Regions from separate parts of the Homo sapiens genome. Here regions 1, 2, 3, 4, 6 and 7 are each linked to region 5. The links come from fine-mapping of genetic effects on gene expression. A gene starts in region 5. Each other region holds a variant in brackets. All regions are shown on one strand. Distances are between the middles of the regions.

Region 1 (4,601 bases), 550 kb before region 5:
ACTTTTCATTATGTCTTTTTTTTTTTTTTTTTTTTTTAAACAGAGTTTCTCTCTTGTTGCCCAGGCTGGAGTGCAATGGTGCAATCTCAGCTCACTGCAAACTCTGCCTCCTGGGTTCAAGTGATTCTCCTGCCTCAGCCTCATGAGTAGCTGGGATTACAGGCATGTGCCACCACGCCAGGCTAATTTTTGTATTTTTAGTAGGGATGGGGTTTCACCATGTTGGCCAGGCTGGTCTCCAACTCCTGACCTCAGGTGATCCATCTGCCTCGGCCTCCCAAAGTGCTGGGATTACAGGCATGAGCCACCATGCCCGGCCATTTTTTTTCTTTTGTTTCTTTCCCATTATGTCTTTTTTCCAGGATGGGGTCTCGCTATATTGCCCAGGCTGGTCTTGAACTCTTGGACTCAAGAAATCCTCCTGCCTCAGTCTCCCAAAATGTTGGGATTATAGGCATGAGCCACTGGGGCTGGCCCTCATTAAGCCTTGACTAAAAATAAATAGCTCCTCTTAGACAAACACCTTTAATCTTGAAAAAATAGATTCATTCTATTTCAATTCATAAAAATGGATATATAAACAGTTAATAAAACACTTTTAACCTAATAATTAAGGAAAAAATGCATCTATTTTATCTATCAAACTAATAAAGACTTAAAAGTGATGACCAGTGTTGACAAGGAAGAAATGAATGCCATTCTCACAGTTGGTGAGACTGAAAATTTCAGGAAAGCAATTCAGGTAACAATTACTTTAAACCAATCATACCCCTTGACTCATCAATTTTACTTTTAGGATTCAGTCCTAAAGAAACAGATGAAATGGGGCAAAGATTTCATTAAACACTTACATTTAAGCACTTTCCCAAGTGTTTTATAGGTATTAATACATTTAATTCTCACTCTATGAGGTAAGTCTATTAGTGCCTTTTTATTATTTATTTATTTATTTATTTTTCTTGAGATGAGGTCTCGTTCTATAACCCAGGTTGCTGGAGTGCAGCGATGCAGTAACAGCTCGCTGCAGCCTTGACCTCCTGGGCTTGAGTGTGCCTCCCACCTCAGCCTCCCAAGCTGCTGGGACCACAGGTGCACGCTACCACACTCAACTAATTTTTTATTTTTAGTAGAGATGGGGTCTCACTATATTGCCCAGGCTGGTCTTGAACTCCCAGGCTCAAGCAATCCTCCCACTTTGGCCTCTCAAAGTGCTGGGATTACAGGAGTGAGCCACCACACCCAGCCTAGTGTCATTTTACAGATGGGGAAAAGAGAGATACAGGAAAGTTAAATATTTTGTCCGAGGTCATTCAAACACTAACTAGAGAAGGCAATATTTGAACACAAGCATTCAGACTTCAGATTTTAAACTCTTCTGATACGGTGAAATGTTTATGGTACACTGTTAAGCTAATAAAAAGGATGATATTGAATCGCACATATAGTGTATCTTAATAAGAGAACATGCATAGAAGAAAAGTACAGAAGAAAATGTGAAATACTTAGTGTTCTTTATATAGCAGGATTGTAAGTGATTATCATTTTCCTCTTTGTACTTTGGCCACTATGAGCATAAATCACTTTTTTTTTTTTTTTTTGAGACAGTTTTGCTCTTATTGCCCAGGCTAGAGTGCAATGGCACGATCTTGGCTCACCGCAACCTCTCGTCTCCCAGGCTCAAGCGATTCTCCTGCCTCAGCCTCCAAGTAGCTGGGATTACAGGCATGTGCCACCACGCCTGGCTAATTTTGTATTTTTAGTAGAGATGGGGTTTCTCTACGTTGGTCAGGCTAGTCTCGAACTCCTGATCTCTGGTGATCCACCCGCCTCGGCCTCCCAAACTGTAGGATTACAGCCATGAGCCAACACGCCCGGCCTTTTTTTTTTTTTTTTTTTTTTTGAGACAGAGTCTCGCTTTGTTACCAGGCTGGATGGAGTGCAGTGG[C/T]GCGATCTCGGCTCACTGCAACTTCCGCCTCCTGGGTTCAAGTGATTCTCCTGCCTCTGCCTCCCAAGTAGCTGGGATTATAGGCATGCGCCACGACACCCAGCTAATTTTTGTATTTTTAGTAGAGACGGGGTTTCACCATGTTAGCCAGGATGGTCTCGATCTCCTGACCTCATGATCTGCCTGCCTCGGCCTCCCAAAGTGCTGGGATTACAGGTGTGAGCCACTGCGCCCAGCCAATAACTTTTTGTAATTGGAAAAAAAAACCACGCCAGTTTTAAGAAAACAAGGTCAGATTCACAGGCTATATGCAACACTTCATGCTTTATCAAACCTACTGTTTGGACATTAAAACTCATCTGAAAATGCTCCAGGGGGTATGTAATCCAAGTGTGATATATACAAATACAAAACTACAAAAAGCACTGGAACTCTAATAGGCTATCTTGTTTGAGGTCTTTGTTGAATTCTCTGCCTAACTTTGCTCCTTAGAAGTCAAAGTCCTTAGCCTTCAAATTAGCACTAATGTAAATATAAGGGCAATATATTTCATCCAAGACAGCTTCTTTTTTTTGTTTTTGTTTTTTGAGACAGGGTCTCGCTCTGTTGCCCAAGCTGGAGTGCAGTGGCCCAATACTGGCTCAAATGATTCTCCTGATTCAGCCTCCAAGTAGCTGGGATTACAGGTGCCTGCCACCATGCCCGGTTAATTTTTTTATTTTTTGTAGAGACAGGGTTGTGCCATGTTGGCCAGGCTGGTCTCGAACTCCTGACCTCAAGTGATCTGCCCACCTTGGCCTCCCAAAGTGTTGGGATTACAGGTGTGAGCCACTGCACCTGACCTCGAAGAGGGTTTCTTGATAGAGTAAACAGAAGAAATTAAAAGTTAACAATTAATTGACATGTACTTGACTGGTTTCCCGGCTCTAAACCAGTGGTTCCCAACCTTTTTGGCGCCAGGGACCTGTTTCATGGAAGATAATGTTCCCATGGCTGTCGCAGGGGCTGGGGAGGGGGAGGTGGATTCAGAATAAAATTGTTGCACCTCATATCATCAGTCATTAGAGTCTCATAAGGAGCACATAACCTAGATCCCTCACATGCGCAGTTCACAATAGGGTTTATGCTCCTTTGAGAATCTAATGCTGCTGATCTGACAGGAGGCGGAGCTTAGGCGGTAATGCTTGCTTGCCCTCGGCTCATCTCCTGCTGTGCAGCCCTGGTTCCTAACAGACCACAGACCAGTACTGGTCCATGGCCCAAGGGCTGGGAACCCTTGCCCTAAACTAGTGAATGCAAGGCTCTCAGAAGAAGCCCTTTACTGGGACCTCCTCACAGAACTTTATTATTTCTTTCTTTTTTTACTCCAGGTTTTATCTGTATACAACCTGTATACAGGTTTTACAATATAAGGTTTATACAAAATAATATAAGGTTTATATAAATTCATCCGATCTTTTGGATGTTACTGTCAGCTTGTGTGAACTAGCCAGCTTTTTGCCTGATTCTGGCAGAGCAATCCGGCCTTTTTTTTTTGAGATGGTCTTGCACTGTCGCCCAGACTGGAGCGCAGTGACATGATCTCAGCTCACTGCAACCTCCACCTCCCAAGTTCAAGTGATTCTCCTGCCTCAGCCTCCTGAATAGCCATGACTACAGGTGTGCGGCACCATGCCCTGCTAACTTATTTTTTGTAGAGACGGGGTTTCACCATGTTACCCAGGCTGGTCTTGAATTCCTGGACTCAAGTGATCCTCCCACCTTGGCCTCCCAAAATGTTAGGATTACAGGCAATGGCCACCATGCCCAACTGCAATCTGGCCTTTGGCTGTTAAATTTGGTGTGTCCCCCCAAAACGATCAAGTATTACATCAAAACAGTTTTCAAAGCACACGCCTGTTAGATAAAGAAGAATGCATGTGCACAGGATACAGCACTTCATACTGAAGAAGCCAGTTTGTCAGTTTATGCAACTTGTTTTGTATGCACATGGATTATAGAAACAGAAATGTATCAAAGATGGTATCTTACTTGGTGAGTGGTTGGTTAGAAAGCAACTGCTTAAGATGCTGGGACAAGAGCTTCTTTTCTAGAGACAGTCTTATCCACGCCCGAGCTCGTCCAACATCAGTCTTGATCTCACTCATGTTTTGAATATGCCTAAAGAATAGTGGCAACAGCAAAGATGTAGATTTTAAGGATAACCCTGACTAGAAAAGAAGTAAAGAGTGAACAGTACTGGGCACAGAAAGGTTTATACTTAAAGGGAGCAATGGATAATATACAATTGATGTTGATTAAATCTTTGAAGGTTCCATCTGAATCATGAAGTTAGTCTCACATCATAATTGCCATTACAACACAAGCACACGGACAATGTGGTAAGATAAAGCATTTAACACTTATTCACTCTTTCAGGCTTTATTATGTCCTTGTGGCAGACTCATAGATATCTGTAAATAAGAATTTGGTTATTCCTGATGCTCCAAAAAAAGTAATGAAACAGGGTGAATACTCAAGTTTCTTTTCAAAATAACTGTTCTATAGCATAATTAAATATCAGTCACAACTTTAATCCACTGAATTACTTTTCAAGTTGCACTGGACAACATATGGAAAATATGAAATCTTACTTTCTATGGCATTAGAGAAAATA
Region 2 (4,601 bases), 22 kb after region 5:
CTGCAAGCTCCGCCTACCGGGTTCTCACCATTCTCCTGCCTCAGCCTTCTGAGTAGCTGGGACTACAGGCACCTGCCACCACACCTGGCTAATTTTTTGTATTTTTAGTAGAGACGGGGTTTCACTGTGTTAGCCAGGATGGTCTCGATCTCCTGACCTCATGATCCGCCCACCTTGGCCTCCCAAAATGCTGGGATTACAGGCGTGAGCCACTGCACCTGGCCCCACAGTACTTCTGACACCAGATGTGTGGGAATTTTTTCCCAACTGACCAATTCTCTCCACATACCAACTGGGTGGCTTGTGATTTGATTCAGTTCTGACACTGTCTACCTGATGTTACCATCAGAACCCACAAGTTAAAGGGCTCAGTCCTACAAGACTGCCCCCACTTGAAGCTAGTCACAAGTCCAGGTTTGTACTTCTGACCAACTGGCTATAAAGCAAACAAGGTATGCTTTCTCTGAGGTCACTACCTTCCCAGCACTTCAGTGTGTTCTGTTCACCAGCCCAGAAGCTCGGCTCATCACATCTCAATGTTCAAGAGTTTTGTTTTTTAAAAAAAACAGCCTTACTCTGTCACCCAGGCTGGAGTGGAGTGGTGCCACCATGGCTCACTGCAGCCTCAACCCCCAGGCTCAGATGATCCTCCCTACACTGCCTTCTGTTTTCTGAGTAGGTGGCTGGGACTACGGGCATGCACCACCATGACGGGGTAATTTTTTTTTTTTTTTAATTTTCAGTAGAGACAGGGTTTCACTATGTTTCCCAGGCTGGTCTTGAACTCCTGGGCTCAAGAGATCTTCCTGCCTCAGCCTCACAGACTGCTGGGATTACAGGCATGAGCCACCACACCCAGCCAAGACTTTTTATAGAGTCCAATCTCCAGCTCCCCCCACCACTTTATGGAGGTCAGTGGTTAGAACTAAAAGTTCCAACCGTCTAATACTTGGTTTTCCTGGTGACCACCAGCTGTATCCTGATGGTATCTAGGGGCCCCCACTTTAAGTCACCTTAGTAGCATAGACTCAGGTATGTGCATACAGAGTTCATTATGAATAACAAAAGATATTTATGAATTAGTGTTTGCTTATGCCAGAAATTTTCTTTTCCTTTTTTTTTTTTTTTTTTTTGAAACAGAGTCTTCACTCTGTCACCCAGACTAGAGTGCAGTGGTGTGATCTTGGCTTACTGTATCCTCCACCTCCCAGGTTCAAGTGATTCTTGTGCATCAGCCTCCTGAGTAGCTGGGATTACAGGTGTGCACCACCACACCCCGCTAATTTTTGTATTTTTAGTAAAGATGGGGTTTGGCATGTTAGCCAGGCTGGTCTCAAACTCTTGGCCTCAGGTGATCCACCTGCCTCTGCCTCCCAAAGTGCTAGGATTACAGGCATGAGCCACCGCACCCGGCCTTATGCCAGAAATTTACTGAGTTCATTAAGGTAACCTTGAATAGCCCTGGGGAGTTTAGACTTTGCGAATGAACAATGAGAATGTTTTTAACCATATGTTTGAACTTCCCTTTTTTTTTAAATTCTCATTTTTATTGTCATGTTAGCTTTTTTAAAAAATGCAGTTAGCATGGATTACTTAGAAGAAAGTCTGTTAAAAATAAGTAAAAACAGAAGGTGATTGGCATTTAAATGTAACAAAAAGCTAGCTGTCATTGTGTGGAATGAATTTCTGTTAAACACGTTAGAAATTTCATTGACACTTGCCTTATTTATTGTTGTATCCTCTATTGCTCCTCTTCTTCCCAAATTAAAGATGAGGCTGCTCTGAAGATTCAGTAATTAGGATGGACAGTCAGCTACTAATTTTCTTAGATATTCTATCTAGGCAAAACAGCATTTTAATAAAATATCTTTATTTCTTACAGATTCCTGACATTCAGACAACTGACTTGTAACTGACTTATAACTGACTTGTAATACACTGCTACTATATCAAACCGACAATGAATTGGAATGAAAAACCAAAGAGTGCTACATTACCACCACTGTATCCTAAAAGCCAGCCACCTTTTTTGCACCAGTCTTTAATAAACCAAATTACCACAACATCTCAGAGTTCTTTCAGCTATCCTGGAAGTAACCAAGAAGCATGCATGTATCCCGGTAATTCAAATCCAATTTCACAGCCACTGCTGAATATCCAAAATTATCCTCAACAAATTTCTGTTTCTGATATGCATAATGGGACAGTTGTGGCCTCACACACTTCAGTAGAAAGAATAACATATGCAAATGTTAATGGACCCAAACAACTAACTCACAATTTGCAGATGTCTTCAGGAGTTACCCAAAACGTATGGTTGAACTCACCAATGAGGAATCCTGTGCATTCTCATATAGGGGCAACTGTATCTCATCAAACTGATTTTGGAGCTAACGTACCCAATATGCCGGCACTACAGAGTCAACTGATAACATCAGATACCTATTCTATGCAAATGCAGATGATCCCTTCTAATTCTACACGACTTCCTGTAGCTTACCAAGGAAATCAGGGACTTAACCAGTCTTTTTCAGAGCAACAGGTTGATTGGACACAACAGTGTATATCTAAGGGACTGACTTACCCAGATTACAGACCACCTCCAAAGCTATACCGTTACTCACCACAAAGCTTTTTACCAGATTCTACCATTCAAAAACAAAACTTTATACCACATACATCATTGCAAGTTAAAAATAGTCAGCTTC[T/C]AAATTCTGTATTAACTTTACCATCAAGGCAGACCTCAGCTGTACCATCACAGCAGTATGCCACGCAAACTGACAAAAGACCTCCTCCTCCTCCTTACAACTGTAGATATGGAAGCCAGCCTTTGCAAAGTACTCAGCATATTACTAAACACTTGTCTATGGAAGTTCCTCAGAGTCGAGAAATGCTGTCATCTGAAATAAGGACCAGCTTTCAACAGCAGTGGCAAAACCCTAATGAAAATGTCAGCACAATTGGAAATTTCACTAACTTGAAAGTAAATACCAACAGCAAACAGCCTTTTAACAGTCCCATTAGATCTTCTGTGGATGGTGTTCAGACTCTTGCTCAAACTAATGAAGAGAAAATAATGGATTCTTGCAATCCAACTTCAAATCAAGTACTGGACACAAGTGTTGCAAAAGAAAAGCTAGTAAGGGATATTAAAACATTAGTAGAGATAAAACAGAAGTTTTCAGAACTTGCAAGGAAAATTAAAATCAATAAAGATCTTTTGATGGCAGCAGGTTGTATTAAAATGACTAATACTTCTTATAGTGAACCAGCTCAGAATTCTAAATTGTCTCTAAAACAAACTGCCAAAATCCAGTCTGGACCCCAGATAACTCCAGTAATGCCAGAGAATGCAGAGAGACAAACACCAACAGTAGTGGAATCTGCAGAAACAAATAAGACTCAATGTATGTTGAATTCTGACATTCAGGAAGTCAATTGCAGAAGGTTTAACCAAGTTGATTCTGTTTTACCAAATCCTGTCTATTCTGAAAAGCGGCCAATGCCAGACTCATCTCATGATGTGAAAGTTCTCACTTCAAAGACATCAGCTGTTGAGATGACCCAGGCAGTATTGAATACTCAGCTTTCATCAGAAAATGTTACCAAAGTTGAGCAAAATTCACCAGCAGTTTGTGAAACAATTTCTGTTCCCAAGTCCATGTCCACTGAGGAATATAAATCAAAAATTCAAAATGAAAATATGCTACTTCTCGCTTTGCTTTCACAGGCACGTAAGACTCAGAAGACAGTATTAAAAGATGCTAATCAAACTATTCAGGATTCTAAACCAGACAGTTGTGAAATGAATCCAAATACCCAAATGACTGGTAACCAACTGAATTTGAAGAACATGGAAACTCCAAGTACTTCTAATGTAAGTGGCAGGGTTTTGGACAACTCCTTTTGCAGTGGACAAGAATCCTCAACAAAAGGAATGCCTGCTAAAAGTGACAGTAGCTGTTCCATGGAAGTGCTAGCAACCTGTCTTTCCCTGTGGAAAAAGCAACCTTCAGATACTGCAAAAGAAAAGGAGTGTGATAAACTCAGAACAAACACAACAGCAGTTGGAATTTCAAAGCCTGCTAACATCCACGTTAAGAGTCCTTGTTCAGTTGTGGGAAATTCAAATTCTCAGAATAAAATAAGTAATCCCTCACAGCAGACAGCTTTGTCGATGGTAATGCACAATTATGAGTCTTCAGGTATAAATATAACAAAGGGAACAGAACTTCAGATAGCTGTAGTGTCACCGTTAGTTCTGTCAGAGGTCAAAACATTGTCTGTCAAAGGAATAACACCTGCAGTGTTACCTGAAACAGTGTATCCCGTTATTAAAGAAGGCAGTGTTTGTAGTTTACAAAATCAATTGGCAGAAAATGCAAAGGCAACTGCTGCTTTGAAAGTTGATGTTAGTGGACCAGTAGCAAGTACAGCAACATCAACCAAGATTTTTCCACTAACTCAGAAGGAAAAGCAGAATGAGTCAACTAATGGTAATTCAGAAGTCACACCTAATGTCAATCAAGGAAAGCATAACAAATTAGAGTCAGCTATCCATTCTCCTATGAACGATCAGCAAATCTCACAGGAGTCAAGGA
Region 3 (4,601 bases), 310 kb before region 5:
AATTAGGTAGAAATAGGCTGGAGTCCAGCAGGGGAAGACAAACTAATCTTTCCTGGACTACATTTTTACATGGATAAAAATTTTTGCCACTGCAACTCTAAGCAGCACTCAGTATCTTTGAGATATTAGTGATGTTTTTCTCTGATGTTCTTTTAGCTCCTGGGGTCACTGTGGGCTAAGAGAGGTGGAGACAGGCTTTGTGCAACGCTGCCTTGTCCCCCTGCTCAGAGGCAGATGTGACTTAATAGGAAGAATCCTAGAGGCCTTCAGATGCTGTAGAGAAGATTCATGTTTGATGAGAGAGAGCCTGGATGACATGAAAGTTGTTGTTTTTTTCCAGAGAAAAGGAAAGAGACATAACATTCCCCCTACCCGCCCAAGCATCAGCTTCCTCTTCTGAACTGGTTGCTGTGGAGATTAAAAACTTTGTACACAGCACATTGCACACAGGCGATACGCGGTTGTTAGAATCTCATTACCATTGACAATGGCTAATTATAGATGTGAACATCTAAATGTGTCTGAAGGGGACAGAGAAGTTTGGTAAGGATAACTTACAATCTTTCCATCTTTTGTTTTGTTTTGTTTTGTTTTGTTGTGTTTTAGAGAGGGTCTTGCAATGTCGCCCAGGCTGGAGTGCAGTGGCATGATCTTGGCTCACTGCAGCCTCCACCTCCCGGGTTCAAATAATTTTCAAATCTCTGCCTCCAAAGTAGCTGGGATTACAGGCACATGACACCACGCCCAGCTCATTTTTGTATTTTTAGTAGAGATGGGGTTTCACCATGTTGGCCAGGCTGGTCTTGACCTCCTGATGTCACGTGGTCTGCCCACCCTGTCCTCCCAAAGTGCTGGGATTACAGGCGTGAGCCACTTCGCCCAGCCTTTTTTTGTTTCGTTTTGTTTCTTAGAGACAGCATCTTGCTCTGTCCTTCAAGCTAAAGTGCAGTGGCTTGAACATGGCTACTGCAGCATCAACCTCCTGGGCTCAGGTGATCCTCCTGCCTCAGCCTCCTGAGTAGCTGGGATGACAGGTGTGCACCACCATGCTCAGCTAGTTCTTACAATTTTTGTAGAGACCAGGTTTCATTATGTTGCCCAGGCTGGAATTTTCGTATTTTTTGTCACAAAGCCTCGCTATGTTGCCCAGGCTGGTTTCAAACTCCTGGCTTCAAACAGTCCTCACACCTTAGCCTCCCTAAGGATCTTGTGCTGAGATTACAGGCATGATCCTCCATCTTTTTATATTGTGTAATTATAATGCAGAGTAGTTTGAGCTTGGTGATGAGAAAGCTTTCTTTTCGCCTTCCTGCCACTCATTGTTTGTATACTTTATTTTCAAAGGCCATTAACATGTCGACAGCCACTGAGCTGCTGTTTTTGTTTTATTGTTCCCTTGACCACACACCAACCAACCATGACTCCCAATTAATATTCTTAATGGAATCCAAGCCTCTAAGCCTCACAGTCCAGGCCCTCCACCAGCCTGCCTCACCCTATCCTCATTTCATCTCCCGCAACCTGGCTCCGGTGAGTGCTCTTCGTAGTCAGACTGGGCTGTTTATTTTCTGCAATGAACTTGTAAATCCCTGCCTTTGGCTCGTGCTTGAAATAGCTTCCTCTTTCTCATTACCGAGTCTACGTCCTGTGTTTAAGTGCAGCTCTGGAACCAGACGACATGTGTGTCATCCCAACTCTACTGCCAGCTATTTATGAGCCCTCAGGCAAGTTACTGAACCTTCCTGTGACTTCACTTCTTTACCTCTAAAACAGAGGTCATAATAGTATACCTACATCCTATGCTTATTTTGAAGCTTAAAGAGGTAATTTAGGGGCTGGGCGCGTGTAATCCCAGCACTTTGTGGGACTGAGGCGGGTGGATCACCTGAGGTCAGGAGTTCGAGATCAGCCTGGCCAACATGGCAAAACCCCGTCTCTACTAAAAATACAAAAATTAGCCAGGTGTGGTGGCAGGTGCCTGTAATCCCAGCTACTCGGGAAGCTGGGACAGGAGAATCACGTGAACCCGGGAGGCGAAGGTTGCAGTGAGCCAAGATCACGCCACTGCACTCCAGCCTTGGTGACAGAGGGAGACTCCATCTCAAAACAAAACCAAAGAAAACAAACAAACAAA[A/C]AAAAAACAAGTGTTGATAAGAATGTGGAGAAATTGGAACCTTCATAAATTGCTGGTGAGAATGTAAAATTGTGCAGTCACTTTGGAAGACAGTCTGGCAATTCCTAAATAATTTGAGCATAGAGTTACTATATCACCCAGCACTTCCATTCCTAGGTATATACCCAAGTGAATTGAAAGCATATGTCTCCACATAAATGTGTACATTAATGTTTATAGTGGCATTATTCATAATAGCCAGAAAGTGGAAACCACCTTAATGTTTATCACAGATGAATGGAGAAACACAATATAGTACTGAATATTCACATAATGGAATATTATTTAGCCACAAAAGGAATGTAGTACAATTGTCCTTCAGTATCCACAGGGGATTCGTTTCAGGACCCCTGAGGATATCAAAATCCATGGATGCTTGAGTTCCTTATATAAAATGATGTAGTATTTGCATAATTACTTTAAATCATCTGTAGATTATAATGTTGAATATGATGTAAATAGTTTTTTTTTTTTTTTTTTTGAGATGGAGTCTCGCTCTTTTGCCCAGGCTGGAGTGCAATGGCACCATCTCAGTTGACTGCAACCTCCGCCTCCCAGGTTCAAGCGATTCTCCTGCCTCAGCCTCCTGAGTAGCCGGGATTATAGGCATGGACCACCATGCCCAGCTAATTTTTATATTTTTAGTAGAGATGGGTTTCTTTTTTTTTTTTTTTTTTTTTTTTGAGACGGAGTCTCGCTGTCTCCCAGGCTGGAGTTCAGTGGCGCAATCTCGGCTCACTGCAAGCTCTGCCTCCCGGGTTCTAGCCATTCTCCTGCCTCAGCCTCCCAGGTAGCTGGGGCTACAGGGGCCCACCACCACGCCTGGCTAAGTTTTTGTATTTTTAGTAGAGACAGGGTTTCACCATGTTAGCCAGGATGGTCTCGATCTCCTGACCTTGTGATCTGCCCACCTTGGCCTCCCAAAGTGCTGGGATTACAGGCGTGAGCCACCGCGCCCAGCCCTGTGACGGGGTTTCACCATGTTGGTCAGGCTGGTCCTGAACTCCTGACCTTGTGATCCGCCTGCCTCAGCCTCCCAAAGTGCTGGGATTACAGGCATGAGCCACCACGCCCGACCAATAGTTGTATTTTTTTTGGAGACGGAGTCTCGCTTTGTCACCTAGGCTGGAGTGCAGTGGCGTGCAATTGGCTCATGCCAACCTCTGCCTCAGCCTCCCAAGTAGCTGGGATTACAGGCGCCCACCACCATGCCGGGCTAATGTTTTGTATTTTAGTAGAGACGGGGTTTCACCGTGTTGCCCAGGCTGGAGATAGTTGTTATATTTTTAGGAAATAATGACAAGAAAAAAAAGTCTATACATGCTGTTCAGTACAGATACAAATTTTTTTCCCCAATTTTTTCAATCTGCGGTTGGTTGAATCTACGGATGTGAAACCTACAGATACAGAGGTCTGACTGTACTTATTCATTCTACAACATGAATGAAGAAAACATTATGCTCAATGAAAGAGTCAGTCACAAAGGACTGCATATGATTCCACTCACAGGCATCCCTCCTTTTACTGTGCTTGGCTTTATTGTGCCTCACAGATATTGTGAATTTTACAAATTGAACGTTTGTGGTACCCCTGTGTCGGGCTAGTCTATTGGTGCCATTTTTTTTTCAAACAGAGTGTGCTTACTTCGTGTTTCTGTGTCACATTTTGGTAATCCTCACAGTATTTAAATTTTTTTCATTAATATTAAAAGTAATGGCCAAAACAACAATTACTTTTGCACCAACCTAATATGATTATCTGTTCTGGTGATCTGTGATCATAGATCTTTGATGTTTCTATTGTAATTGTTTTGGAGCACCCATGAAAGATGGTGAACTTAATGGATAAATGTGTGTGTTCTTTTCCTTTTCTTTTTTTTTTTTGAGACAGAATCTCTCTCCGTAGCGAAGTACAATGGCATGATCTCAGCTTACTGCAACCTCCACCTCCCAAGTTCAAGCAATTCTCCTGCCTCAGCCCCCTGAGTAGCTGGGATTACAGGCACGTACCACCACACCCAGCTAATTTATGTATTTTTAGTAGAGGTGGGGTTTTGCCATATTGGCCAGGTTGGTCTCGAACTCCTGGCCTCAAGTGATCCACCTGCCTCCCAAAGTGCTGGGATTACAGGCATGAGCCACTGCACTCAGCCCTGCTGTCAGAGGCCTTTGTACCAGAGCAACTCCATCTCGAATAGGGGCTGGTTAACCTGAGGCTGAAACCTGCTGGGCTACATTTCCAGTAAGTTAAGGTATTCTTAGTCACAGAATGAGATAGGAGGTCGCTGTAAAGACTTTGCTGATCAAACAGGTTGCAGTAAGGAAGCCAACCAAAACCCACCAAAACCAAGATGGCAACGAGAGTGATCTCCAGTCGTCCTCACTGCTACACTCCCACCAGTGCCATGACAGTTTACAAATGCTGTGGC
Region 4 (4,601 bases), 250 kb before region 5:
TATTGGCTTGGAGGGATTCTTTATATTGTCAAGATAAAAAAGCCCCTAGATTTTCATACATACTGTAAATATTTTTCCAAGTTTTTGACTTTGTTTCTTTTTTTTTTTTCTTCTTGCCATAAGGAAGTCTGTATTTTTATGTAATCAAATCCATCCAACTTTTTTTCTTGGTTTCCAACTTTAGTATCATGTTTAAAAAGGCCTTCTCCATCCAGAGAGTATAAAAAGATTTATGAAATACTTCAAAAACAGCCATCCAAAGATGTGTGTCACTTTGTAATGGATGTTGTATCTGGCTTTTTGAATAATGTCATAAGCAAGACTCTTGTTAAGGATGGAGACTAGAGGGAGAGTACCCAGAAAAATCATGTCTTGTTTTTCTATCTCATTCACCCTCTTCACCCCTCCTTTTAAATTCAGCTAAAATTAGGCTTAAAAAATGGTAAGGATTGCCATCAAACAAAAACCTAAGTCACTGAAGGATAAGCTAAAGGGATAGTAAGAAATGTGGATGGTGGAAAAGTGAAGAAAACCACCATTTTTCTACAGTGTCATTATGGTTCATCTATGAGTCACATATAACATTACATACTTCAACAGAACCATCAACAATAAGAACGTGGAGATATTATTCTACTTCCACAGAGCCAAGCAAACTACACCACTAAGGTATCTATGTTCAAATGCAAGCTAACATGAAGAAAATAAAGCATTATAATAAAGATATATCAGGTTAATGCAGAAGAAACATTAAAAACAGGTTAAAGTGCAATTCCAATGTAAAGTCACAGGGTTAGTCACATGCTCTAGCATGTAGGCTGGGCACTGTGGCTCACACTTATAATCCTAGATCTTTGGGAGGCCAAGGTGGGCAGATTGCTTGAGCCCAGAGGTTCAAGACCAGCCTGGGCAACATGGTGAAACCCTGTCTCTAAAAAAAATACAAAAATTAGCTGGATGTGGTAGTGGGTGCCTGTAGTCCTAGCTACTCAGGAGGCTGAGGTGGGAGGATCACCTGAGCCCAGGAGGTTGAGGCTGCAGTGAGCCATGATTATGCACTCTACCCTGGGTGACAGAGTGAGACCCTGTCTCAAAAAAAAAACAACAAACAAGCAAAAACCACAGAAAAACATATGCTGGAGTGCTATCATCAGACCTTGCTTCCTTTTGATTACAGGCTTTAGGCAGAAGGTGAAGTGAAGTCAGAGCAATTGTGGAGTCCTAATTAGGGAAAAGGAGTCAGGCTGGCAGGACAAGGGGAAAGCAAATAAGCTACAGGTCTGCCTTTCTTCATGGTCCAGAACATATAAACAAAAAGAAGAAGCAGATAAGCTATAGGTCTGCCTTTCTTTATGGCCCAGAACATATAGCCCTCCTGTGCAGACAACATACAAAACTCATAAACCTCCTGCTTATCACCAAACACTTTGATCTATCATCAAACACCTCGGCTGACAGAAGGATGCAAGTTAGTTCCCTCCTACCTTGGTGCTGTCAATCAGCCCAAGTTCCATTCTATAAAATCCCCAGCAAGCCTTTGTCTCCTGGCAGTTGGGTCCTCTCTTGCTGGTTCTGCCCGTTGCTCCCTTGCAATGTATTTTCATATTTTCTCTAATAAATCTGCCTTTCTTGGCCGGGCGCGGTGGCTCACGCCTGTAATCCCAGCACTTTGGGAGGCTGAGGCGGGCAGATCACAAGGTCAGGAGATCGAGACCATCCTGGCTAACATGGTGAAACCCCGTCTCTACTAAAAATACAAAAAATTAGCTGGGTGTGGTGGCGGGCGCCTGTAGTCCCAGCTACTCAGGAGGCTGAGGCAGGAGAATGGCGTGAACCTGGGAGGCAGAGGTTGCAGTGAGCCAAGATCATGCCACTGCGCTCCAGCCTGGGTGAAACAGCAAGACTCCGTCT[C/CA]AAAAAAAAAAAAAAAAAAAAAAAAATCTGCCTTTCTTTACCTACAACTGTCTTGGTAAATTCTTTTACCACCATCCCACCAGCCTGGATAGATGCCGCTCACCCCCAACAGCAATTGGCAGTTCTAGTCTCTGCAGACTAGATGGTGATGGCTGCAGAGTGGTGGTGGCTGCAAACCCAAAGACAATATTTAAATGTAAGTAGTGTAGAAACTACTAACTAGCATTTTCACTTTTTGAAACACAAATAGCAAAAATACAAAAGATAACACAGGAGTAGTATCGAAGGAAATTATCTACTCTGCTATTTAATAACCTTTAAAATCAGAGGCTGAAGGTTAAGCCCTAATCTCACGGGCTGTTTAGCAGAACAAAGAGTGATTAACCATCTTTTTCTAGTGCTTGGGGCTCTCTGCCTTGGAGCTCATCACTCCAGCCCCTCTCCAGGCCTCCACCCCCTATGTCAGCTTAGTAGGGCCGAAACAGACTTGGGTCTGGCCTCCTTTACTCTTACCACTACCAGAGAGTATACAGAGATATGTTCACAGGCCAAAACAAGACATCTAGAGAGCACCACTATTTCAAAAGAAAAACAAAGATTACTGATTCCATCAGGAGCAGAGGAATTAGAACAGAGAGGCCAAATATATTAATAAGCATAATAATATGCTAAAAGAAATAAGAAAAGATTAATAAGATAAAACGAAACCATAAAAAGGTGAATTGGAAATATTAAATATGAAAAATATAGCAGTTGAAAAAAGAACAGTATAGATGAGAAGAGTGATTTTTTAACTACTGGTCATTATCCATGAATGGATTACAAAATCAGTTTAGCAGACTGTGATCAATATTTTTTCAGTAAAATAAGACTAAATAGAATAAAATTAAATAGAAAAGACCAAAATGTACTATACATTATACTGTTACACCTAAGTGTGGTTTGTGTACTACAGTCACAATGTAACGTATATTTCTTATTGTGAGTCTTGATCAAAAAGTTTTAAACTTTTTGAAAACACGGAGGTCAAGGGTACAGGTACCATGAAGACAAGTGTGTATGGAAGGCTAATGGGAGCTGACCAGAACAACACCATTTTGTTCCTGAATGTCATTCTGCAACTGCTTGACTGTAGAACGTACTTGCTGATGCTGCAGATGAAATTGCTGCCACTTCTGAAAAGACTATGCTATGCTGATGACTGAACTTTTTCCAAACCCCTGAATCAAGGACTTCTGCCTAGAAACCCTTATTCTAACTAATGAATTGTTTGATAACCCTCTCCCACCTTTCTCTTTAAAAGACCTCATATATCTCTTAGGACATATGAATTAAATAGTTAGGACATGATTTCAGATGCCTCTGGAATCTGTGTTCCTTGAATTCAATTCTAAAACCACCAATAAACCTTTTTGCTTGGATTTTCAGTCTCCACGACTCTGGTTGACACAAGAGAAGTAACTGAGACAATGGTAGAAGATGTTTTAGGAACTATTACATGTTGCGGGAAGTCAGGGACCCCAAATGGAGGGACCAGCTGGAGCCATGGCAGAGGAACATAAATTGTGAAGATTTCATGGACATTTATCACTTCCCAAATAATGCTTTCATAATTTCTTATGCCTGTCTTTATTTTAATCTCTTAATCCTATTATCTTCATAAACTGAGGATGTACGTCACCTCTGGACCACTGTGATGATTGCATTAACTGTACAAATTGATTGTAAAACATGTGTTTGAACAATATGAAATCAGTGCACCTTGAAAAAGAACAGAATAACAGCAATTTTAGCGAACAAGGGAAGACGACCATAAGGTCTGACTGCCTGCGGGGTCAGGCAAAAAGAGCCATATTTTTCTTCTTGCAGAGAGCCTATAAACAGACGTGCAAGTAGGAGAGATATTGCTAAATTCTTTTCCTAGCAAGGAATATTAAGACCCTAGGGAAAGAATTGCATTCCTGGGGGGAGGTCTATAAATGGCCACTCTGGGAGTGTCTGTCCTATGGGAGTGTCTGTCCTATGCGGTTGAGATAAGGACTGAGATACACCCTGGTCTCCTGCAGTACCCTCAGGCTTACTAGGATTGGGAAACCCCAGCCCTGGTAAATTTGAGGTCAGACTGGTTCTCTGCTCTCGAACCGTTTTCTGTTAAGATGTTTATCAAGACAATACGTGCACTGCTGAACATAGACCCTTATCAGGAGTTCTGATTTTGTCCTTGCCCTGTTTCCTCAGAAGCATGTGATCTTTGCTCTGCTTTTTGCCCTTTAAAGCATGTGACCTACTCCCTGTTCGTACATTCCTCCCCTTTTGAAATCCTTAATAAAAACTTGCTGGTTTTGTGGCTCAGGTGGGCATCACAGTCCTACCGATATGTGATGTCACCCCCGGCGGCCCAGCTGTAAAATTCCTCTCTTTGTACTCTTTCTCTTTATTTCTCAGACCAGCCGACACTTAGGAAAAATAGAAAGAACCTACATTGAAATATTGGGGGCAGGTTCCTCTGATAATTACATATGGACATTTTGGTTATCTGGAGGGAAAAAAACAAACCCTTATACTTTATAATATTCTAAAATGTGGGCCAGGCATGGTGGCTCACACCTGTAATCCCAGCATTTTGAGAGGCTGAGGCGGATGGATCACTTGAGCTCCGGAGTTCGAGACCAGCCTGGGCAACATGGTGA
Region 5 (4,601 bases):
GAAATTTAGAATTCATATCTAACACAACCGTTTTTGCAACAACACACAACCCAAGAAAGCTGGTCTCAATATTATTATTATTATTATTATTATTTTCCGAGACAGGCTCTTACTCTGTCACCCAGGCCGGAGTTCAGTGGCTCAATCTTGGCTCACTGCAACCTCTGCCTCCCAAGCTCAAGTGATCCCCCCATCTCAGCCTCCCAAGTAGCTGGGACTACAGGCGCATGCCACCACTCCTGGCTAATTTTTTTTGTTTTTTGTATATTTTTTGTAGAGATTGGGTTCACCATGTTGGCAAGGCTGCTCTCTCAAACTCCTGGCCTCAAGTGATCCTCCCCAAAGTGCTGGGATTACAAGCATAAGCCACCACGCCTGATCCCCAATCTTTTTTTGTTTGTTTTGTTTCATGAGACAGACTCTTTCTGTGGCCCACGCTGGAGTGCAGTGGCGTGATCTCGGCTCACTGCAACCTCTGCTTCCTGGGTTTAAGCAATTCTCCCGCCTCAGCCTCCCGAGTAGCTGAGAATTACAGGTGCCCACAACCACGCCTGGCTAATTTTTATATTTTTAGTAGAAACAGGGTTTCACCATGTTGGTCACGTTGGTCTCAAACTCCTGATTTCAAGTGATTCACCCACCTCAGCCTCCCAAACTGTCAGGCCTCTGAGCCCAAGCTAAGCCATCATATCCCCTGTGACCTGCACGTATACATCCAGATGGCCTGAAGCAACTGAAGATCCACAAAAGAAGCGAAAATAGCCTTAACTGATGACATTCCACCATTGTGATTTGTTTCTGCCCCATCCTAACAGATCAATGTATTTTGTAATCTCCCCCACCCTTAAGAAGGTTCTTTGTAATTCTCCCCACCCTTAAGAAGGTTCTTTGTAATCTCCCCCACCCTTAAGAAGGTTCTTTGTAATTCTCCCCACCCTTGAGAATGTACTTTGTGAGATCCACCCCCTGCCCGCAAAACATTGTTCCGCGGAGCCTCTCCCAAAACCTATAAGAATTAAAGATAATCCCACCACCCTTTGCTGACTCTCTTTTCGGACTCAGCCCGCCTGCACCCAGGTGAAATAAACAGTCTTGTTGCTCACGCAAAGCTTGTTTGGTGGTCTCTTCACACGGATGCGCGTGACACAAAGTGCTGGGGTTACAGGCCTGAGCCACCACACCTGGCCACCCCCAATCTTTAAGAATATTCTGGCCGGGCGCGGTGGCTCATGCCTGTAATCCCAGCACTTTGGGAGGCTAAGGCGGGCGGATCAAGAGGTCAGGAGATCGAGACCATCCTGGCTAACATGGTGAAACCCCGTCTCTACTAAAATACAAAAAATTAGCCGGGCATGGTGGCGGGCGCCTGTAGTCCCAGCTACTTGGGAGGCTGAGGCAGCAGAATGGCGTGAACCTGGGAGGCGGAGCTTGCAGTGAGCCGAGATCGTGCCACTGCACTCCAGCCTGGGCGACAGAGCGTGACTCCGTCCCCCCCCCAAAAAAGAAAGAATATTCTGTATGTAGTTTTTTTGTTTTGTTTCTGACAGACGCAAACGCACTCTTCTAGTAATGACTAAAGACTTCTTCGTTTAATTCACCAATGAACTAATCTGACAATTTATGTAACAAATAAATTCCTATAAACATAAGCTCCCTTGCCCCTCTCCAGTGGCACAATCTCTGATTTGCCATCCTGGTTGCAACCTTCATTACTAAGTAAACGCTTACGTAAACCTTAATAATGAGATTCGGGCAATATGATTAAATATTGGTTTATTTGAGTGCAAAGTTTGAGGATGGCGACCCGGTAGGACACAGACTCCAAAAGATGGGGGTCAGTGCTTCGAAAGGGAGAAGTTTGAGGGTCGTTTACACAGGCAGGGTCTGGGAAGCTTAACAGGATGTCAACATTTTCCATAGAAGGTTAACGCATAGCAATTTGATTGGTTCAAGGCAGTGTTTCTTTTTGGGAAGGGTCTATTTAACATTCCACATTAAGGATGTAATAGTCAAGCGGTCATTTATCTTATTCAATGCGTATTTTATCTCAGATGCCATCTGGTCTGAGCTGGGAACAAGAAAATAAGGGAGTTAATCTATAACAAAAGGTCGGCAATTAAGAGGTCGTGCTTCGTGATCTGGTCTCCAAAGTCAACTTTCCTCAGGGACTTTCAGAATCCCCAAATAGACTATCCACTTTCTTTCACACTTATTTGCCTCTAACTTGTTGATTTCTTTTTTTTTTTTCTGTTTTTTAAGGGTTAACAATCTCTTGGGTGCACTCTGACTTCCATGCGCTTTATAGAAAAAATTGGTCCTGAGGCCAGCAGCAACAGTCGGTCTCAGGAACTTGTTAGAAATGCACATTTTTCAGCCCCACCCCAAACCTACTGAATCAGCAGTTTTGCTGGTGGTTCTCAATCTCTCTTTAACGTGCCCTCTGGGTGCTGCGGATGCACGCTGAAGGTAGAAGATCGCTGCAGGAGATTTCCGCGTCGGGCAGATGAAAGCGCTCTGCAAGCCCGGGTGTTATCTGCGGGCCGGGTCCGCGGCTTCTCTGGTGGCACTAGGACCGCGGCGGCGCGGCCCTCGCAGCCACCGCCTCGGGCGTGAGGCGGAGCGTAGCTGTTCCTGGATCCTGGGCCTGGCTCCTCGACCCGCCCCTGGAGGCGGACCCCACTTGACTTAAACTCTGGGGCCCGGGAGGCCGCCGGTTTTCTCCCCGCTTGCCGGGGTGGTCCTCTTCCCTTTGTCGGTAAGTGTGAGACGAGCACCCCGAGGTCCCTCCGCCTTCCGGGGTCCGGGCGGGGCGGGGGCCGGGAGCCGGGAGCCAGAGGCACTCGCGGTCCGGGCCTGCGCGCGGCGCAGAGCGCTTTTGTTCTGCGGCAAAGACGCAGTCGCGGGCGGCCCCGGAACCCGGGCCTCGGGCCCCGCCGGCTCGCGCGTCCCGCCGTCCGCCCACCGGAGCTGGGCCGGGCCGCCGCGCTTGCTTCTGCCCGCCGCACCGGGGCCGGCCCTGGGCCTCCGCGGATGCCGAGCCTTGCACCGGAGGGCGGGCCTCGCTGGCTGTTTTCCCTCATTGCCTGGCTCTGCGCGGTAGAGGTCGCGAGTGGCGAAGGCTAGGACGCATTTTGTCGAACTGCGAGGCGCGGCTGGTGAGGCGGGTGGGTATGAGAGCTGCTTATGTTTTTAAGGCTTTCCTGTCGCTGGAGTGAAAAAGAAAAATCTTTTTTTTTTTTTGCTATTTCCCGAGGGTTCTCCTCCTCCCCGGCCCTCTTAAGCCGAAGCCTCCTGGAACAGAATTGCTGTACTGGCATCTATCTCCAAGTGGTCCGCGAACGCTTCTGCGCCGGCGATGGTTTCTGTTCCTCAGCAATAGTTCCTTGAGGCATTTTTAAATGCACAAACGCATACCCATCTTAGGTGTTCTCGAGGGACACGGATTCCCTAAGCAAACGTCCTTAGGGTCCTGAGTTCAGCAGCAAACTTTCGGGGAATCATTTCCGTGAAAACAATTTATTTGTAGTACATCGAGTGCATACTGTCTTAACATAAGGATGTGTATGAGCTTGAGGCGCATTTTCATTTAGTGGCGGGCGGGTGCATTTCAGTAGGCGGGCCGCAGAGCTTGTTTGGGGATTGCATTTTTCTGCTAAATGTGTTAGCTTTAATCATGTTTCAGTCACTGTTAATGTGCATGCATGTTAAGGTTTTAGGTTTTTTCCCCTGTGCAGTCGGATTTTTTTCTGTTTAATATTAATCCAATAAAGACAAGTGCAGAGATAAAGTATTATTGTTTTGCAGTGATACTACAATAGCGGACCTAGAGGAGCGCACATAAATTCTAACTTAAGTGAATGGTATTTTCAGGCCAGACCTAGTTTCTATTTCTGTTACTTAGGACACTTAATAAGAATTCAGTAAACTTAGCATGCTTTCAGTGCAGCCATAAAAGAAAACAGTTTTGCACAGCAGTGTCATATCTAGTAAACACATTAGCATGTGCTCTTTTATTATAAAATGTTTCTTGCTGTCCCTAGGACCAAAGAAGTAAACACTGTGTGGAGAGGGACTGACGTGTTTGGAGGGAAATGGGAATGTACACGATAATTAAAGAGTAAAGTTGTGCTCAACGGTAAGTGTATCACCTCTAAGAAACCCGCCCTGATTTAACCAGGCGGTTATTCACACTCAACTATGGAGTAATTCACCTATTACCGAATAAAATTACTAGCTCAGTGAATCAACATCGGTTTTAAATTAAACTGTGGGTCACAATGGAATTGACAGCAAAGCTTGAGAAGAAATGTTGTTGGCATAGTACTGAAAAATCAGTTGTTAATCTTAGCAAAATAAGGAAAGAGGTCTTTGGTAAGGGAATTGTGGTGGAAGTTACCTGGGCAGAGGTCTGCTTCTGTCTGTGCTGTGTTTATTTGATTGTTTTTATTATATTTTATTACTGTTGGTGGCACATAGGGGAATGTGGCGCAGAGCACCACTCTGGGAGGATGCTTCCCGTGCAGCCAAAGTGATCATGTCCAGGGCTTTCATCTGTAACCACAAAGTGTGTTAGGAAGTCTCACCTAATGATTAAGACCATG
Region 6 (4,314 bases), 34 kb after region 5:
TTAGGGGCGAGTGAAGCTGGTTCTGGAGAAGGGATCTCTGGGAAATAGTGAATTATATACCTTAGACAAAGAGGCTGGAGAACAGTGAACCAACTATGAAGTGAGAGAAAAATGCCATGAACTCCCAATCTGCTATAAAGAAACATACATCTGGCCTGGTGTGGGGCCCATGTGTGTCATCCCAGCACTTGGGAGGTCAAGGCCGGAGGATGGCTTGAGCCCAGGAGTTTGAGACCAGCTTCGGCAACATCAGGAGATCCCATCTCTACAAATAACTTTTTAAAAAATTAGCTGGGCATAGTGGTGCGCACCTGTGGTCCCAGCTGCTTGGCAGACTGAGGAAGGAGGATCACCTGAGCCCAGGAGTTGAGGCTGCAATAAGCCCTGATGCAGCACTGCACTCCAGCCTGGGCAACAGAGCCAAGACCCTGTCTCAAAAAAAAAAAAACCCACAGGAGAAACAGATGTCTAAATTCAGTAGCAAAGGTTGCAGCAAACTTGAAGTCCTAAGTTAGGGTAAAGAGATGAAGAGGAAATGACAAGAATTTCTTGGAAAGCAACTTAGAGACCCATCTGGGGCTTCAGTGTTACTAATTCTGAAAGAAAGCAAACGAAAAAGTGGAAGACTGCAGCAGATCTAAAGAACTAACAGGACAGAATACTCCACCCATTCAGGTAGAAAAAGACAAAACAAGACCCCATTATTCAGAAGAAAATAGCTGCAGCAGGAATGAAATGTACAGATAGTCCCTGACTTGGCAGTGGTTTGACTTAGGATTTCTTGACTGTGATGGTATGAAAGTGATACACATTCAGTAGAAAGTGTATTTCGCATACCCATACAGCAATTCTGTTTGTTTGTTTGTTTGTTTGTTTTTTGAGACAGTCTCGCTCTGTCACCCAGGCTGGAGTGCAGTCGTGTGATATCGGCTCACTGCAACCTCTGCCCAGCTAATTTTTGTATTTTTAGTCAAAACAGGGTTTCGCCATGTTGGCCAGGCTGGTCTTGAACTGGCTTCATGTGATCTGCTTGCCTTGGCCTCCCAGAGTGCTGGGATTACAGGCGTGAACCACCATACCCAGCCTCAACATATTTTCAATAGGTGATGGGTCATTATGAAAAAAGGACACTGAAGCTAATGTAACACTGAAATGGTCTCAAGAAACAGGAAACTATAGACATGTTTTAGAATATCCAATACATGGCAAGACCAAAATATGAAACCTATCCTTTTCATGTATTGTTTGGGACTGACTCATATTTGTACTCTTTGTATTGCTAATTTACATAGCTGTTTAAAAGATCACATTCATACTAATGATATGCAATGATACATTTTATTGAGCCAAGAGTAAGGTAGAACAGAACAGCCCAGGGCAATGAGGATGGGGCAAGGAGGCAGGAGTAGAAAACAGCCCCCAAAAGAAAGGCAAGATGTCACGTGTATATAACTTACAATTCTATAAGTGAAGAGCTATGGTTCTGAAACTTTTGCTTAACTCCTTGCCTTAATTTTTTATCCCTCCAATATATATTTTCCCTCTGAATTTTGATTATATATTGATCACAGCTAACATTGAGAAATAAAGTAAGTAAAGTTTTTATTTCCCTTAGATAATGTTAATTCAAGACTCTCGAAGAGAAGCTTCAGTGCAGATGGATTTGAGATGCTACAAAACCCAGTAAAAGATTCAAAAGAAATGTTTCAAACCTACAAACAGATGTACCTGGAGAAGAGAAGCAGAAGCCTTGGTAGCAGTCCTGTAAAATAATTACAAGATGTGGTTTTGTAATTGCCACTGGGAAATTTCTTTCCTTTTCTGTTCAAAATATTTCGCTGAAACTAATGAGAAATGCCATGATAAAGATTTCTCAGAGTTTGGTTCCCACTTTCATTGTATTTCATTGAAAGTGCTTAATTAAAATGGCTTGAGAACTTTGGGTAGCCATGTGTAAGA[A/G]ATGGATGGTATTCACCGGGGAAACAAGGTATTTGAATTTCTACTTTATTGAACCAGATTTACCATTATTTTAAAAGGAATGCTTATACAAATCAATTTGAAATTCTACCCATCTTGAGGGAGGACCGTTCCTCAGTTAAGGACTTGTTTATTTAAATGGGACTGTAAATATGTTTTGGTTTCTAAGCTATATTAGCAAAATTTATTTTTCAAAAATGCCCACTGTGATGTGAATGTCAAAATATATTCTTAAGTGTTTTATAACTAATTGTAAACTTTTTTTCAGAAGTCTTATTTTATACTTGTGAAACTGAACACAATTTTGGGACAACGTTTAAACATTACTTTTCATACTTGAAATAAACATTTATTTTTTAAAAAACTAATTTGAAACCTTCACAGCTCAGTTTCTTTTTGGTTTCCTACCTTTAAAAGGACGCATTTTGGAAAGTGCTTTCAAAAGCTGAAATGCGAGGTGGCTTATGCCTGTAATCACAGCACCTTGGGAGGCTGAGGCGGGCGGATCACAAGGTCAGGAGATGGAGACCATCCTGGCTAACACGGTGAAACGCCGTCTCTACTTAAAAAAAAATACAAAAAATTACCAGGACAAGGTGGGAGGCACCTGTAGTCCCAGCTACTCGGGAGGCTGAGGCAGGAGAATGGCGTGAACCCGGGAGGCAGAGCTTGCAGTGCGCCGAGATCGCGCCACTGCACTCCAGCCTGGGCGACAGAGCCAGACTCCTTCTCAAAAAAAAAAAAAAAAAAAAGCTGAAATGTCACAGCAGTTGTGCCAGTAGGTATTTTTAGATTGCGTTCACATGAGAACACAAAAAAATTTACTAGGTTCAGGAAATTTCAAGAAACTGGAAGGCAAGATATAACTTTATTTCTAGTTTTACTTTATGACTACGAGAAAAGGGTTGGAGTTTTTGTTTTGAGACAGGGTCTCACTCTGTCGTCAAGGCTGGAGTACTGCGGTGTAGGATGAATGTTCACTGCAATCACTGCTCCTGGGTTTAAATAATCTTCCCGTCTCTGCCTCATGAGTAGCTGGGACTACAGTGTGCTAATACACCTGGCTAATTTAAAAAAAAATTATTTAATTTGCTAATCTTTGTATTCTAGTGTGCTGCCAAAGTGAGCACATAATTTTGTTTTTTTGTTTGTTTGTTTTTGTTTCTTAATGTTTGGAGAATTTTTGTGGTTTTTTTGTTTGTTCTTTGAGACGTACTCCCGCCCTGTTACCCAGGCTGGAGTGCAATTGCGCGATCTGGGCTCACTGCAACCTCCGCCTCCCGGGTTCAAGCGATTCTCCTGCCTCAGCCTCCAGAGTAGCTGGGATTACAGGCGCCCGCCACCACGCCCAGCTAATTTTTGTATTTTTAGTATAGATGGGGTTTCACCGTGTTGGTCAGGCTGGTCTCGAACTCCTGACCTCAGGTGATCCGCCCACCCCAGCTTCCCAAAGTGCTGGGATTACAAGCATGAGCTACTGGGTCCAGCCTGTTTGTTTTTTTTTGAGACGGAGGCTTGCTCTGTCGCCAAGGCTGGAGTGCAGTGACGCCATCTTGGCTCATTGCAACCTCCGCCTCCCGGGTTCAAGGATTCTCCTGCCGAATAGCTGGAATCACAGGTGCCCGCCACCACGCCCAGCTAATTTTTGTATTTTTAGTAGAGACGGGGTTTCACCATGTTGGTCGTCAGGATGGTCTTGAACTCCTGACCTCGTGATCTGCCTGCCTCAGCCTCCCAAAGTGCTGGGATTACAGGCGTGAGCCATCTTGCCCAACCCTGAGCACATAATTTAAAAATACATACATTTTTGGAGACATGAGATTCTACCCTGTTGTCCAGACTGGTCTTGAACTCCTGGGCTCAAGTAATCCTTTGGCCTTGGCCTCCCAAAGTCCTGGGATTACAGATGTGAGCTACCACGCCCAGAGCATGTTGGTTATTTTTATAAAATCTTAATGTTGTATATATATATATAAAATTTTCATTTGAAAACTATGTACAAGGTAGACCAATGGATTTTAATGAAACATTGCAATTTTTTGTGCTTTTAGCTTTCATATTACAACCAACCTTTAGGAAACAACTACGGTCCTCTGTCATTTAATGACAGGGATATGTTCTGAGAAATACATCTCTAGGTGATTTTTTTTTTTTTTTTTAAATGGAGTCTCATTCTTTTGCCCAGGCTGGAGTGCAGTAGCACGATCTCCACTCACTGCAACTTCCGCCTCCTGGGCTCCAGCAATTTTGCTTCAGCCTCCCGAGTAGCTGGGATTACAGGCACACACCACCATGCCTTGCTAAAGTATTTTTAGTAGAGACAGAGTTTCACCATGT
Region 7 (4,601 bases), 220 kb before region 5:
TCAGCTCTGAGAGGCTGCCTGTATTTCTTGCCATGCAGAGTCCTCTAACATGGCCATCTGCGCCCTCAAAGCTAAACTGGGGGAGGGGGAGAAAGATGGGTGCTACCATCTTATGTAACATGACCCCAATCATGTACACACAATCACATACATCCCATCATCTTTACTGTTTCTTTCAGTTAGAAGCGAGCCACAGATCCTGCCCACACTAAGGGGAAAGGATCACATAAGGGGAGGCAAGGATCGTGGGGCCAACTAAGAGTCTTTCCACCACAAACCACAAAGCCTTCCACTGCAAATATTATTGTGTTTGGTTATGTCCTAGAAAAAAATAAGGTTTTAATCTCACATGAAAAGTCAGAATGCCAGACTGGGCAATATGGGAAAACCTCATCTCTTCCAAATATATATATATATATATCCAGCTGTGGTGGCACATGCCTGTAGTCCCAGCTACTTAGGACGCTGAGGTGAGTGGATCGCTTGAGCCTGGGGGGGGTCAAAGCTGCAATGAGCCAAGACTGTGCCACTGCACTCCAGTGGACAACAGAGTGAGACACTGTCTCAAAAAAAAAAAAAAAAAAAAAAAGAGAGAGAAAAGGAAGGAAGGAGAAGGAAGAGAGGAAGAGAGGAAGCGGGGGAGGGAGGGAGGTCAGAATAAGAGGAGGGAGGTCAGAATAGGATAGTTCCAGGGTTGGTTGTTCAGTGGCTTAATGACATTATAATTCCTGCTCAGAACCTCTGTGATTCCCTTGAGTTTTCCTCTCATGCTTTCAAGATGGCTCTGCAGGTCCAAGCAATACATCCTTGCACTGAGGATGCAAGTTAGGAAAATTCTAGTTCATTGCTTTACTTTGAGCCTCTTATTTGACTTATTCCATTTTACTTGTGAAATACGCATGTGACAGCTGGAATTGGCATTAGACATGTTAGACAGAAAGTAAAATTGAGTATATTTCTGATTCTCAAGCATTTGTTTTTGCCACTGTTTAAGAAATAAGCAATGCATTGTCACATACTAAGCACTCAGTTGTTTGTTGAATGAAATATAACACTGTAGGGTAGGGTAGGAGAACACTAAAGTTCCTGGAGGCAGGTAACATGTACTTGTATTTTTCTCACATCTCTCTTGTTAAGAACACAAAATCTTTGCCTAGAAGAACTCACAGCAGCATCCTCAGTACTATGGCACTTGCTATGATTAAACCAATCATTACCAAGGGAAATGAGATATGACTTAGATCAATCATAATTCATCCCTCAGGATGGGCATGAGTCTGAATACCCCTATAGCACATGGCCATCTGATACCTGAACAAAATCAGGATTCTGTTAAAAAAGAAGAGGAAGGGAGAAGGAATGACTATAAACAACAAGCACCATCCTCCACAGATTCAAGGAAGAATTAAAAGGGGTAGTAAGGTGGTCTCTCTAGAGAGGCAATGTTTTACTTGAGATTTGCCAAGAAATTGTCAGACTTGTGAAATCTGCGGACTAGCAATCCGTGGGGTGGGTAAGGAAGAGCAAATATACTGCTTAGAGGTACAGAGTTTCTTTTTGGGGTGATGAAAATGTTCTAAAATTGATTGTGGTGATAATTGTACAATTCTGTGAATATACTAAAAATATATACTTTAAATGGGTGAATTGTATGGTATATGAATCATACCTTAATAAAGCTGCTATTTAAAAAAAGAATAGTAATGTAATACCTTGAGACAAGACAAGCTTGATATGAATTATAAGAATGGTTTGACTGGGTCAGATTCAGTGAAAAATTTTCATAATAGACCTTTAATTATTGTTAATCTGCTAAAAAACAGTATGGAACTTAAGTACCGAGCTTCTAATGGAAGATAGAGAAATACCCTATATTTTCAGGTGGGATATTTCCTATCGGTGTTTTTTTCCCAGGAATGCAGTTTTCCTAGGCTTCAAGCTGCTCAGAATATGTGGCCTTCAATAGACCTGCAGCCAGGATTAGGTGGGACTTTGCCTCATCTGAAGGGCTTCTTCTTATTTTATTTATCGTAATTTTTTGTAGAGATAGGATCTTAATATATTGCCCAGGCTGGTCTTGAAATCCTGGACTCAAGTGATTCTCCTGCCTCAGCCTCCCAAAGTGTTGGGATTACAGGTGTGAGCCACCGCACCCGACTTACAGGGCTTCTTCTATACTTACTAATTCTCCTAATGTGTGACATCTGGTCTACTACTTAAATTGGTGCTTTTCCATTGGATATAAGCCTTAGCAATAGATATTACCTAATTTTCTCTTACCTTTTTATGGGTGGGGTTATTTTCATTATAATTTTTTTTTCCTGGGTTTGCACAACTGCCAGAAAACATTTTATCAGAGCTAGGTTATGAACATTGCAGGTGGGCCTTTCAACTTCCTGCAGAAGTGCAGAGGTGCAACTGAGCATTCACTAAGAACTGGCACTT[G/C]TCCAAACTGTGCAAAAGAGGGAGTGCAAGTCTGTCTCACACACGTAATTGAGGAAGGAAAAGAAGGCCAGTGTTGCTGAAGCTTAGGGAAGGAGATAAAGACAGAGAGGTAGGCAGGGACTAGATCACATAGTGCCTTGAGAATCATAGAGATTTGGTTACAGCTAAGTGCAATTGGGAGAATGTTGGAGGGTTGCTCTGAACAAGGACATGACAGGATCTGATATGCATTTTTAATAGATTAATTTTGGGGAAAATATATGTAACACAAGTAACTGAAGAGGATGTGTATCTAGATTTTAAAAGGTACTGCAAATCAATATGATGAAAACACACACACACACACAATTGGAAAATCAGCAAAATACTTAAGCAGGCACTTCCCCACAGAGGAAATCTAAATGGTCAAAAGCATATGAAAAATGTTCTGTCTTGTTAATCAACCAGGGAAATACATGTTCGAACTTCCACATGTTGGCCGGGCGCAGTGGCTCACGCCTGTAATCCCAGCACTTTGAGAGGCGGAGGTGGGCGGATCATGAGGTCAAGAGATTGAGACAATCTTGGCCAACATGGTGAAACCCCGCTTCTACTACAAATACAAAAATTAGCCGGGCGTGGTGGCACGCACCTGTAGTCCCAGCTACTTGGGAGGCTGAGGCAAGAAAATTGCTTTAACTTGGGAGGTGGAGGTTGCAGTGTGCCGAGATCGCGCCACTGCACTCCAGCCTGGTGACCTAGCAAGACTCTGCCTCAAAAAAACAAAACAAAAAACGAACTTCCACATGTTAAAACTTGTACAAGGCCGGGCATGGTGGCTCATGCCAGTAATCCCAGCACTTTGGAAGGCCGAGGCTGGCAGATTACGAGGTCAGGAGATTGAGACCATCCTGGCCAACATGGTGAAACTCCATCTCTACTAAAATACAAAATATTAGCTGGGTGTGGTGGCACATGCCTGTAGTCCCAGCTACTCAGGAGGCTGAGGCAGGAGAATCGCCTGAACCCAGGAGGCGGAGGTTGCAGTGGGCCAAGATTGCGCCACTGTACTCCAGCCTGGCAACAGAGCAAGGCTCTGTCTAAAAAAAAAAACAACAACAACAAAACAAGCAACAACAACAAAAAAACTTGTACAAAAGCCAGAGGCAGTAACAGGAGCCTGTAGTCCCAACTACTTTAGAGGCTGAGGCAGGAGGATCACTTAAGCCCAGGAGTTTGAGGTTGTTATATATAAAGGTTCGGTGCCGCAAAAGAAATAGCACTCGAATATAAAATTTTCTTTTTAATTCTCAGCAAGGCAAGGTACTTCAATAGAAGGGTGTGCCCTTACAGATGGAGCAATGGTGAGCGCACACTTGGATAAGGGAGGGGAAGGGGTTCTTATCCCTGACACACGTGGCCCCTGCTGCTGTGTGGTTCCCCTATTGGCTAGGGTTAGACCTCACAGGCTAAACTAATTCCAATTGGCTAATTTAAAGAGAATGACAGGGTGTGTGCTTTGGCAGGAGTCAGGGCAGGGCAGGTAGCAGGTAATCAGAATGAGTTAGGGTGGAGTAGGTGACCAGAATGAGTCAGAGTGGAGTAGGTAATCGAAAAAGGTAGCTTTACGAGGAAGTTAAGTTTAAAAGTAGAAGGCAAATAATTGAACATACTGACATTAATTCTTTGAAAAGAAATTTAGAACTCATATCTAACAAGGCTATGGTGCAGTATGATTATGCCTGTGAATAGCCACTGCACTGCAGCTTGGGGAACATAGCAAGACTCCGTCTCCAAAAAACTCCCCCCAAAAAACTGTACAAGCCACTAGGATGGTAAAAGTAGGAAAAACAATCTGACACTCTCAAGGAACTTTGACAATACCAATGGAAACTCACCCTTTGGTAGAGCATTAAACAGGTTGTAACCATTTTGGAAAAGAAAGGCTGTGCATCTTCAAGTTTATTAGACAGTCTGATATCTACATTCTCCTAGTTATATATCTTAGAGAAACTCTTGCATGTAAGTGCCAGAAAGCATGTATCAAAGTGTTTATTGTAGCACTAATAATAACTGAAAACACCCAAAAGTCCATTAAAGAGTATAATAAATTATGATATTAATTACAATATATGAAATTCTATACAGAGCTACAGCTATATGCATAAGGACAGATG

Direction of the effects. Alleles are on the strand shown, and positions count from the first base shown. SD is a standard deviation of normalised expression in the study named. Not every link is listed here.
As copies of CA replace C in region 4, the expression in NK cells of the gene that starts at base 2,679 in region 5 goes up (small effect, 0.36 SD a copy in Gilchrist 2021).

The links. PIP is the estimated chance that this variant, and not a neighbour inherited with it, causes the effect. A credible set is the group of variants that fine-mapping cannot tell apart.
Region 1: its variant is the best candidate, but not a certain one, in a credible set for the expression of RESF1 in whole blood (INTERVAL, PIP 0.79).
Region 2: its variant is the best candidate, but not a certain one, in a credible set for the expression of RESF1 in whole blood (TOPMed, PIP 0.68).
Region 3: its variant is the best candidate, but not a certain one, in a credible set for the expression of RESF1 in whole blood (TOPMed, PIP 0.68).
Region 4: its variant is the best candidate, but not a certain one, in a credible set for the expression of RESF1 in NK cells (Gilchrist 2021, PIP 0.79).
Region 6: its variant is the best candidate, but not a certain one, in a credible set for the expression of RESF1 in B cells (Fairfax 2012, PIP 0.86).
Region 7: its variant is the best candidate, but not a certain one, in a credible set for the expression of RESF1 in whole blood (TOPMed, PIP 0.90).

Annotation. Positions count from the first base shown.
Region 1 is chr12:31,409,460-31,414,060 of GRCh38, forward strand. It overlaps DENND5B (DENN domain containing 5B), which reads right to left. Exons shown (of 21, transcript NM_144973.4): 13 at 3,977-4,105. Among named protein-coding and RNA genes, the nearest start is that of LINC02387, 42 kb to the left of the region's middle. The variant C/T (reference allele first, on the strand shown) is at 1,946.
Region 2 is chr12:31,978,996-31,983,596 of GRCh38, forward strand. RESF1 (retroelement silencing factor 1) reads left to right here. Exons shown (of 6, transcript NM_018169.4): 4 at 1,883-4,601. The coding sequence starts at 1,961. Among named protein-coding and RNA genes, the nearest start is that of RESF1, 22 kb to the left of the region's middle. The variant T/C (reference allele first, on the strand shown) is at 2,709.
Region 3 is chr12:31,645,726-31,650,326 of GRCh38, forward strand. All of the region lies in intron 1 of LOC124902913 (a long non-coding RNA gene), which reads right to left. It also overlaps a transcript of ETFBKMT not described here. Among named protein-coding and RNA genes, the nearest start is that of ETFBKMT, 12 kb to the right of the region's middle. The variant A/C (reference allele first, on the strand shown) is at 2,135.
Region 4 is chr12:31,704,400-31,709,000 of GRCh38, forward strand. All of the region lies in intron 2 of AMN1 (antagonist of mitotic exit network 1 homolog), which reads right to left. Among named protein-coding and RNA genes, the nearest start is that of AMN1, 22 kb to the right of the region's middle. The variant C/CA (reference allele first, on the strand shown) is at 1,912.
Region 5 is chr12:31,956,737-31,961,337 of GRCh38, forward strand. It overlaps RESF1 (retroelement silencing factor 1), which reads left to right and starts at 2,679. Exons shown (of 6, transcript NM_018169.4): 1 at 2,679-2,755; 2 at 4,041-4,135. It overlaps LOC105369725 (a long non-coding RNA gene), which reads right to left and starts at 2,568. Exons shown (of 2, transcript XR_931503.2): 1 at 2,392-2,568; 2 at 1,757-2,068. RefSeq lists enhancers at 301-800, 804-1,597 and a silencer at 2,650-2,989.
Region 6 is chr12:31,990,763-31,995,076 of GRCh38, forward strand. RESF1 (retroelement silencing factor 1) reads left to right here. Exons shown (of 6, transcript NM_018169.4): 6 at 1,616-2,345. The coding sequence ends at 1,773. Among named protein-coding and RNA genes, the nearest start is that of RESF1, 34 kb to the left of the region's middle. RefSeq lists a silencer at 3,126-3,290. The variant A/G (reference allele first, on the strand shown) is at 1,960.
Region 7 is chr12:31,740,634-31,745,234 of GRCh38, forward strand. No RefSeq gene overlaps it. Among named protein-coding and RNA genes, the nearest start is that of AMN1-AS1, 14 kb to the left of the region's middle. RefSeq lists a silencer at 2,454-2,543. The variant G/C (reference allele first, on the strand shown) is at 2,446.